Regions from separate parts of the Homo sapiens genome. Here region 1 is linked to region 2. The links come from fine-mapping of genetic effects on gene expression. A gene starts in region 2. The other region holds a variant in brackets. All regions are shown on one strand. Distances are from middle to middle. Region 1 has its middle 12 kb from the start of LAMB2. Region 2 holds the start of RHOA (ras homolog family member A).

Region 1 (5,371 bases), 270 kb before region 2:
ATATGGGCTTACTCACTGGGTGGCACATTGATTGCAAAGTGTATTGAGCATGAAAGCCACAGAGTTCACAGCCCCAGGGGTCTCCCAGGTTCCAGAAGAGGGGGGCACAGTGGCTGCAGTCTTGCCCCAGAGTGCGGGGGCAGCACAGGCTTCAGCCTCAGATGGGCACCACATGAGGACATTGTCTCAAGGGTCACAACTGTAGCCTGGGGAGAGGAAGGCTTGGCCAATCTGGGGAGTGAAAATCCTACCCGGTCACCCTGGGATGTCCCCACCCACAAACTCATGCTGGCAGCCCTCTGAGCCCAGGTCTATAGGGGAACCTGCCCCCAATAGTCACACAGGTTCTTTTCTGTTTTCCCTAAGCATCGGCCAGGTTGAGAAATAAAGGGACAGAGTACAAAAGAGATAAATTTTAAAACTGGGCGTCTGGGGGAGACATCACATGTCGGTAGGTTCCATGATGCCCTCTGAGCCGTGAAACCAGCAAGTTTTTATTAGTGATTTTCAAAAGGGGAGGGAGTGTATGAATAGGGTGTGGGTCACAGAGATCACATGCTTCACAAGGTGATAGAATATCACAAGGCAAATGGAGGCAGGGCGAGATCACAGGACCACAGGACTGGGGCAAAATTAAAATTGCTAATGAAGTTTCGGGCACCATTGTCACTGATAACATCTTATCAGGAGACAGGGTTTGAGAGCAACCTGTCTGACCAAAATTTATTAGGCGGGAATTTCCTCATCCTAATAAGCCTGGGAGCGCTATGGGAGACTGGGGCTTATTTCATCTCTACAGTTTCGACCACAGAAGATGGCCACACCCAAGGGGGCCATTTTAGAGGCCTACTCTCAGAGGCGCATTCTCTTTCTCAGGGATGTTCCTTGCTGAGAAAAAGAATTCAGCGATATTTCTCCCATTTGCTTTTGAAAGAAGAGAAATACAGCTCTGTTCCGCCTGGCTCACCAGCGGTCAGAGTTTAAGGTTATCTCTCTTGTTCCCTGAACATTGCTGTTATCCTGTTCTTTTTTCAAGGTGCCCAGATTTCATATTGTTCAAACACACATGCTCTACAATTTGTGCAGTTAATGCAATCATCACAGGGTCCTGAGGCGACATACATCCTCCTCAGTTTACGAGATGACAGGATTAAGATATTAAAGTAAAGACAGGCATAGGAAATCACAAGGGTATTGATTGGGAAAGTGATAAGTGTCCATGAAATCTTCACAATTTATGTTTACAGATTGCAGTAAAGACAGGCATAAGAAATTATAAAAGTATTAATTTGGGGAACTAATAAATGTCCATGAAATCTTCACAATCCACGTTCTTCTGCCATGGCTTCAGCCGGTCCCTCCATTTGGGGTCCCTGACTTCCCGCAACACAGGTCACTGCTGCGGAAGCCAGGCTTGCCGTGGGCATAGGCAGGGACATGGCTGTGGTGCACAGAATGCTGGCAGTGCCCACTGTGGGGGTCACAGGCAGCAGGATCATGGAGATTGATATTGCCACACTGGCAGACCGGTATGGACTCTTCTGGGGTATCCTCCTGGCCAGGTGCCCAAAATAGCCACAGAAGCAGTGGTCACAGCTGAGGCCTGGAGAGGACTGGGGTATATGTGTCTTCCTGTACCCTGGGGGCCTGTGGGTCTCAGATATGCAGCCAGAAAGTCTGAGGTCTGGCCAGGAGGGACACAATAGGTATATTATAGCCCATCTTCCTGGCTTTCAAGGTCTATACCTATAATTCCCCCCATTCAGCCCTCCTTCCTCAGAACAGGAACTCCTTGAAGATGGTGCCCAGCTCAGCATACAGGTGGCATTGGGAAGATTTGTCATGTGGACCTGATGGGATTGTGAACAATTGACCAGGGCTGTGGCTTTGTCACTGCCAACCATGCCTCACCTGCATAGCCAGGTAAACAGAAGACTAGGATATGCCCACTCATGCTGTCCACATGGCAGGAACTCCCATGATAGAGGCTGGAATTGGGGTGCCCAGGACAAAGGCAGAGCCAGCACCGCTGGCCCAAGCCTAGAGTGGGGTCTCCATAGTAGCCATCCAAGCACCTGGGGGCAGTAGCACATGGTATGGGGCCTGTTCAACCCATCCAATGACAGTGCTCACCTTTTACAGTGCCAGCCTGGCAGGCCTGGCAGATACATATAAGGGGGTGGCACAACTCAGCATGCCCATTGCAGGCACAGGGCTGGCACTGCCAAAAGCTTCAGTAGCCAGGGAGGCAGTAGTCACGGCAGCAACCAGCAAGTCCTTCCTGGAACATGCACTGCCCATACACAGGGTTATAGATGGCACTGGTGGTACCTTCAGCATATCAGTGGCACTCTGTGGAGAATGACAAAGCAATCAAGCCATGCAAGGACAGGAGACAGCTGGCCCCCAACCTCATGCCTACAGGCCCTGAAGGCTCATCACTGCAGCCAGAGGCCCAAAGCCTGCTTTCCAGGCACACAGTGGTCACAAGTATGACCAATGATATGAAGATGGCAGGGATACTGCCCACATAGCAGGCCCCACTCAGTGCTCAGTGAACCTTGCAGATGGCACACATGCTGGCAGAGGAAGGGAAAGATTAGATGAACCTCATGGTGCTCCTGCAACCCCTACCCTGAAGCCACTTCAAGCCTGGCACATACACTCACTGAGGCCCATCCCCATGGAGCAGAGCTGAGATGCTGCAGAACAGGCAGGCACAGGCTTCAGGCATCGTGCTGGAGAGGCCTGGCCTTGCTGCCTCCATGAGCCTGCCTGGTGGAACTCCTGTAAATGCCTGAGGCCC[C/T]AGGGTACAAAGACCCCAGCCCAGGCAACGTGTTCACCCATGGCAGGTGCACAAGCTAGCAAGAGGGTCAAGGGAAGCCAGCAAGAGGCAATCAGCCCCACTCATTAACACTTACTTGCCACCTTTCTTGGATTGGCCCTCATCCAAGGGGGACATCCCTACCCCCACCCCTCAGCCCCCCTTCTGTTTCCTAATCTCTCTCTTTTTTTTTTTTTTTTTTTTGAGACAGAGTTTTGCTCTAGTTGTCCAGGCTGGAGTGTAATGCTGTGATCTTGGCTCACTGTAACCTCTACCTCCCAGGTTCAAGCAATTCTCCTGCCTCAGCCTCCCAAGTATCTGGGACTACAGGTGCATGCTACCATACCTGGCTAATTTTTTTTTTTTTTTTTTGGTAGAGGTGGGGTTTCGCCATGTTAGCCAGGATGGCCTCAATCTCCTGACCTTGTGATCCGCCCAACTCGGCCTCCCAAAGTGCTGGGATTACAGACACCCGCCACCACGCCCAGCTAATTTTTGTATTTTTAGTACAGACGGGGTTTCACCATGTTCACCAGGCTTCTCTCAAACTTTTGACCTCAGGTGATCCCACCTCGGCCTCCCAAAGTGCTGGGATTACAGGCGTGAGCCACCATGCCCGGCCCCTTGAACCCCTAATCTGTTTTGAGTCAATTTTTCCTCCATCTCCAGTGGCCCCAATCTAGTAGAGAGAATGCCATCTCTCACTCAGAATCATTTCGGGAGCTTGCATCTGGGCCTTCCACCAAACAATAAATTCTCCCCACATCTCTTCCCTGCTTAAATCTCTTCCATGGTTCCCCACTTCCCCTGGGATAAAGGTTAAGCCCCTCTCCTGGCCCAAAAGGTCCTATGAGATCTGGCACTTGCCTATTCTTATCTTCTGTCTTTTGCATGAGCTGTTTCCCCTGCCTGGGCTCCTCTGCCTACACTCTCCATCTATGTAGGTCTTAATCCTCTTGCTGCAACTCCAGGCCTCTATGATCCCCTGCCTCCCAGCCTCACTGCACCAATCCTGTCTTGCTATAATTTATGTCTCAGAGACTGGGCGCAGTGGTTCACGCCTGTAATCTCAGCACTTTGGGAGGGCGAGGCAGGTGGATCACCTGAGGTCAGGAATTCAACACCAGTCTGGCCAACATGGTGAAATCCCGTCTCTACTAAAAATACAAAAAAAAATTAGCTGGGCATGGTGGCAGGCGCCTATAATCCCGGCTACTCCAAAGGCTGCAGCAGAAGAATCGCTTGAACCCAGGAGGCAGAGGTTGCAGTGAGCCGAGATCGTGCCATTGCACTACAGCCTGGGCAACAAGAGCGAAACTCTGTCTCAAAATAAATAAGTAAATAAACAAACAAAGAGGCCGGGTGCAGGTGGCTCATGCCTGTAATCCCAGGACTTTGGGAGGCCGAGGCGTGCAGATCACCTGAGGTCAGGAGTTCAAGACCAGCCTGGCCAATGTGGTGAGACCCTCTCTCTACTAAAAACACAAAAATAAAATAAAATAAAATAAAACAAAACTAGCCAGACAAGGTGGCCAGCACCTGTGATCCCAGCTACTGAGGAGGCTGAGGCAAGAGAATCGCTTGAACCTGGGAGGCAGAGGTTGCAGTGAGTCAACATTGTGCCACTGTACTCCAACCTGGGTGACAAGAGCAAAACTCCATCTCAAAAAATAAAATAAAATAAAATAAAATAAAATAAAATAAAATAAAATAAAATAGGCCAGGCGTGGTGGCTCACGCCTGTAATCCCAGCACTTTGGGAAGCCGAGGCGGGTGGATCATGAGGTCAGGAGATCGAGACCATCCTGGCTAACACGGTGAAACCCCATCTCTACTAAAAATACAAAAACAAAAAATTAGCTGGGCGCAGTGGCAGGCACCTGTAGTCCCAGCTACTTGGGAGGCTGAGGAAGGAGAATGGTGTGAACGTGGGAGGCGGAGCTTGCAGTGAGCCAAGATAGCGCCACTGCACTCCAGCCTGGGTGACAGAGCAAGACTCCATCTCAAAAAATAATAATAATAATAAAATAAAATAAAATAAAAAAATAAAATTGGCCAGGCACAGTGGCTCATGCCTGTAATCCCAGCACTTTTGGAGGCCGAGGTGGGCGGACCATGAGATCAGGAGATGGAGATCATCCTGGCTAACACAGTCAAACCCCGTCTCTACTAAAAATACAAAAAAATTAGCCAAGCATGGTGGCGGGCGCCTGTAGTCCCAGCTACTACTCAGGAGGCTGAGGCAGGAGAATGGCATGAACCCAGGAAGCGGAGCTTGCAGTGAGCCAAGATTGCGCCACTGCACTCCAGCCTGGGCAACAGAGTGAGACTCCATCTCAAAAAAATTAAAATAAATAAAATAAAATTTATGTCTCTGAGCCAGGCGCAGTGGCTCACACCTATAATCCCAGCACTTTGGGAGGCCAAGGTGGTCAGATCACCTGAGGTCAGGAGTTCGTGACCAGCCTGGCCAATATGGTGAAACCCCAACTCTACTAAAAATACAAAAATTAGCCGGGTAGCCAGGTGCGGTGGCTCAAGCCTGTA
Region 2 (5,371 bases):
CCTTCTCCAGTCACTGCATGGACTCCACCCCATGGACAAGAAACACCTGAAGAGCTACCTGTTTTTACTCTCCTAATAACTTACACCCCCATATGACCAGAATAAACTTTTAAAAAGCAGTTAACTGACAAATGGAAAGAAATCAGGACTACGAAAATACTCCACCACCACCACATGCATGTGCACAGGGAATTGTTTACTTGATACACGCAGTACCCCAAATCAACAGTCAAAAGTGCCCACAGTTAACTAAAAATATCTTAGCCTGACCTAAATATCTTGGTTTTGAAGCAGTAAAGTGTAGGCCTTGCTCTAGAAGTTGGTCCCTTAAAAAAAAATCCAAACAAAGCCATGATTAGGCCAACCAGGGACCCTCGTACATTCATCTATCTCCCTCAATTGAAGGCAGGACCATCCAGTTAACAAGGGGAGAGTGCTGTGTAAGCTAATGAACCGAAATTTTTTGGCAAATGAACAGTTTCTCCCAAACTATTCACCATCAACAAGGTTTAAAAGAAGAAACAATGGAATAAGCTAGAAGTCCTGAATTTTAGCTGACTCTGGAGGCCAACTGCTTGGGAGTAAATGGAGAATACCTTAACAGAGCAGACAGTTCTGGTCTGCTCCTGACTAGATAGGTAACCTTGGGAAATTTACTTAAGTCTCTGGGACTCAGTTTGCTCATCTGCAAATGGGGTTGGACAACCAGTCCTGAAAGATTCCTCTTAGATCTAAAACTCAAGAACTACACAGTATTCCTACTCTCTTCTTCCCTCCAACACAGATTTTTATGAGAACAGAGAGGATAAATCTAGCACTAGACTTTAACTCAAACCAAGGTGCACCTTATATATTTAATGTCCCCAAGAGCCATCAGTGCTCCACAAAAGTAGATGGAACCAATTAAGACAAGTTATCCAGAGATCCTTCAATAAGTCATTCTTTACAATTAAAAACTAGTTTTTCAGTCCAATGTCACTTGTGCCAAATGCTCAAAACAGTATCTCCGCCAATCTAGCCACATCTAAGGTGACAATCATCCGCATGGTACACATTACACATCTGGGTGATACTAAGTGGTTGAAAAATTCTCTCCACATACAACATTTTAAATTATGGAAGTTTTTTGGTTTTTCAATTTTTCTCCTTCAGAAAGGCAGAGTGAAATATCTACTTACACACCTGCAAGAAACGTTTAAGACTTTCTTCAAGACAGAACCAAACAAGTCAACAACAGAGGTAAAAATTTAAAATCAGAACTATTAAAAAACACAAGTGGAACCAACTTTGAGGTAAAAAGGATTCCAATTTTCCACCGTAAACTACTAAACAAGGTTTGTGAACAAATCAACTTGGATGCGAATAGCGCTATTCAATGAAGACGACCCGTAACTGTAGATCCAATCAGTAACTAAGGTACAGATATTTAGATCATTCCTAATCAATACAGCGACTTCGACTAAGCAACATTGCATCTATTTTCATGCAACATCGCTTAAATCATTTACAGTTTTGTGTGTTGTTTTTTTTTTCCAAATGGAAAATACCCCTTTTCCACTCAAAACAGACCCCAAAGCTTTCAGACGAGTTCGGGCGCGTTCCAGGTGGTATGGCCGTAGATCATACCCCTAAGCGTTCAATACAATCTTTTACTTACTTACACAGTCTCCAACAAGTCTGCATTAAAAGAAAACCTACCCAAAGTGTAACTGGACTTTAATCAATATGAAACAGTGATTGTCGTTTCTCGTTAAACGTAAAAAGCAAAATGGAGTTGTAAAGAGTTTCTTTCCCATTTCAACTCCGACAGCCACGCGCGCTTTCAGCGGCCGGCTACACTGCGCGGTCGCGGGGCCCGGCCCAAAGCCCCCGCCCTGCCCGGCGCCGCTGGGAGAGGAAGCTCCGGGGACCGAGGGCGGGCAGGCGGGCAGCCTGGGCTCCACCAGGCCCGGCCGGGCGGGGGAAGGGGCACAGGAGACTACCGGGCGCGCTTCCGGGGACTGCGCGGGCGGGGTCGCCGCTTGGGGCGCGGGGCCCGGGCTGGGAGTCAGGTCAAGGGTCAGGGGCCAGGGGCGGCTCGGCCACGAGCAGCCGGTGGGGCGCGGCCGCGGCGGTGCGGCGGCCTGCCGGCCGGAAGAGTACCGGGCTGGCGGGCCTGGGGCCCCGCGGCGCCTGGAGGGAACCCTTCCGCTCACCTCAGGCAACGAATCCGAGTCCAGCCTCTTCGCGCCGGGGACGCCGGTCCGCGAGTCGCAAACTCGGAGACGAAGGCGGGTAGCTGAAGACCAGACCGTGGACTAACGAGAGAACCGACGGAGGACCGCGGGCGGCGGGAGGGTAGCGCGAGAGAGCGAGGGCGGGCGGCGGCGGGAGGGCGGGGAACGACGTGCGCGCCTCCGAGTGCCCAGCGGGCTCGAGCCGGCACAGGTCGCGGCCCCGCGCACGCGCGCGCACTCACAGCTCATCCACTATTGCTCAGGAGCCCGTCCACGCCCTAAAAGCAAAACCCTTAACCAATCATTGCAGCCGCGTGGGGCATCACGGGAACTCCGGGGCTATAAAAGACCTGGTTGCTATTTTGTACTCCCGGAGTCACTCATCCCTTAAGCAAGCAGGGTGGGGTTAGGTGCGCGTGCGCGGTTTTAATACTCCTCCCCGAACTGCCAACTCTTCACGCACGCGAAGTAGGCCCCACCCTGGCTGGGTTTACGCGTGCGCACTAACGGGCCTGGTCCCGGAAGACCACACGCGTGCGTGGTGGGGACTACGGTGACAGTACCCCGGGTGGGGCGAGGGCCAGTCATGGCGGAGTCCTGGTCTGGGCAGGCCTTGCAGGCTCTGCCGGCCACGGTGCTGGGCGCGCTGGGCAGCGAGTTCTTGCGGGAGTGGGAGGCGCAGGACATGCGCGTGACCCTCTTCAAGCTGCTGCTGCTGTGGTTGGTGTTAAGTCTCCTGGGCATCCAGCTGGCGTGGGGGTTCTACGGGAATACAGTGACCGGGTTGTATCACCGTCCAGGTGAGGCTTCCTACGAACCTCCGTGGGCTGGCCGCCCCCGCCCCCACCCTCTCCCGACTGTACCATTGGGTTCCCCACTATCCTGCAAGAGGCTCATCAGAACTTAACATTGGTTCACGGCCTTACTACCCTGAACGCATCTGACCTCGGAAGCTAAGCCAGGTACTTGGATGGGAGAACTTAACGTTGTGCCCTGACTCATGCCACCATACCATTTTACGCCAGAATCCCCACCAGTCCACCCATCACATTGTATCTGTTCCTCAGAACTCTCACCTGGCAATACCATTAGTCCCTTAGGACCCTCACCAGACTTCACCAAACAATACCAGTGGTCTCTAACCTGACCTGGGCTGATGCCTGCTCAGATTCCCACCCCAGCCTTCTGCAGCTCTGGATGTGTTTCTGCCTCCAGGTCTGGGTGGTCAGAATGGATCCACGCCTGATGGCTCCACGCATTTCCCTTCGTGGTGAGTAAATCTGTCCATACCGCAACCCCATGCTTGGCATTCCAAGGACACTCCTGTGCTGGTGACAGAGAGGGGAGTTCTCAGGCTTTAAGCCCACCAGCTTAATGGCCTTTGCAGCAAGCTTCAAGTCTGCACGTAGAGCTCAGGCTTCAAGTTAGGGTGACACCAAGGTCTGGACAGTCCATCATCATGCTGTTCAGCAGCCTGTAGGATAGGTGGTGGTATTGTCATAATTTCAGAGAGATGAAATGACAGGTTTGTTGGATTCCACTCTGCACAATCCCCTCAGTTGGGAAGGCAGTAATCTCTGTCCTGAGCACATTGACCTCATCAGGGTCAGCCTCCTCTTCTGCAAAACATGCGCTCACTAATCAGGGCATTCATTCAGATAATCTCTGGGCCCCTATCACGTGATAGGGGCCACACGAGGCCCAGAGAACAAAGACAACCCGGGCCCTGCTCATGGGGAGCCAGGGATTTATTAGGGGAGGGCGGCAGTGCATGGGGCAAGGGTGGTCAGGGAAGGCTTCTCCCAAGAAAGACACCTAAGCCGAGATCAAATGCCACAGGGTGACAAAGTGTACCAAGCAAAGGGAATGGATTGAGCAAGGCTAAGAGGGAAGAATACGGGTGACATATTAGAATAGGTAAGACTGTGATGCTGGAGCTTGAACGTGAGAGCTTGTTGGACCCTGGGAGCCATTGAAAGACTAACTCAGCAAGGCTGTGGTCTGATCTAATTTGCCTTTATAAATGCCTACTTCATGGCAAGTAGATAAAGGGGTCCAAGAGTTAGGGCTAGAGGTTAGAAAGGCTGCCACTGCCCAGGTTTCTGTCTTAGAGAAGAGGCCAGGCCCCATGGCTCATGCCTGTAATCCCAGCACTTTGGGAGGCTGAGATGGGCGGATCACTTGAGGTCAGGAGTTTGAGACTAGCCTGGCCAACATAGGGAAACCCCGTCTTTACTAAAAATAGAAAAAATTAGCTGGGCATGGTGGCATACGCCTGTAATCCCAGCTACTCGGGAGGCTGAGGCATGAGAATCACTTGAACCCAGGAGGCAGAGGTTGCAGTGAGCCCAGATCACGCCACTGCACTCCAGACTGGGCATCAGAGTGAGACTCTGTCTCAAAAAAAATAACAGGCCGGGCATGGTGGCTCACGCCTGTTCCTAGCACTTTGGGAGACTGAGGAGGGTAGATCACCTGAGGCCAGGAGTTTGAGACCAGCCTGGCCAACATGGCGAAACCCCGTCTTCACTAAAAATACAAAAACTAGCTGGGTGTGGTGGCGGGCGCCTGTAATCCCAGCTACTTGGGAGGCTGAGGCAGGAAAATTGCTTGAACCCGGGAGGTGGAGGCTGCAGTGAGCTGAGATCTTGCCATTGCACCCCAACCTGGGCAACAAGAGTGAAACTCCGTCTCAAAAAAAGAAAAGTAATAACAATAGTAATAAATAAAAAGAATAAAAAAACTAGAGAAGGATGGCAATGCCGTACTAACATGGAGAACCAGGAAGAAGAATGAGTCTGCAGGGAGAAGGTGCTGGGCCCAGGGTGGGCTGTGGGAGACCAGCAGAGAGGTCTAGATTGTTATGTGACCTTACTGAGCCTAGCTCAGCCCCCAAGAAGGAGCTTGGGAGAGCCAATTTCAGCAACTGTTCTGCCCATGGAATAACCACTCTCTCTTCTCTCTCTCCATCACTTTCAGGGAAATGGCAGCAAACGAACCTCTCAAAACCCACAGAGAATAAGGGAAGGCAGCAGAGGGTCTCCAAGGGCATCACTGGGTCTGCTGGCTTCTACACTGGGTTCTGCTACTCCCCAGACCTCAGGGACAACTGCCGGGGGTTCAGGGTTGGTAGCAGGGAGTACCCAGTGCCTACA

The links. PIP is the estimated chance that this variant, and not a neighbour inherited with it, causes the effect. A credible set is the group of variants that fine-mapping cannot tell apart.
Region 1: its variant is the best candidate, but not a certain one, in a credible set for the expression of RHOA in whole blood (INTERVAL, PIP 0.54).

The regions. Positions count from the first base shown.
Region 1 is chr3:49,142,112-49,147,482 of GRCh38, forward strand. No RefSeq gene overlaps it. Among named protein-coding and RNA genes, the nearest start is that of LAMB2, 12 kb to the left of the region's middle. The variant C/T (reference allele first, on the strand shown) is at 2,807.
Region 2 is chr3:49,409,625-49,414,995 of GRCh38, forward strand. RHOA (ras homolog family member A) reads right to left here and starts at 2,352. Exons shown (of 5, transcript NM_001664.4): 1 at 2,196-2,352. TCTA (T cell leukemia translocation altered) reads left to right here and starts at 2,799. Exons shown (of 3, transcript NM_022171.3): 1 at 2,799-3,016; 2 at 3,432-3,486; 3 at 5,196-5,371. The coding sequence starts at 2,803. The coding sequence ends at 5,238. RefSeq lists enhancers at 1,499-2,473, 2,372-2,666, 2,602-3,011 and silencers at 1,792-1,881, 1,892-2,171, 2,232-2,531.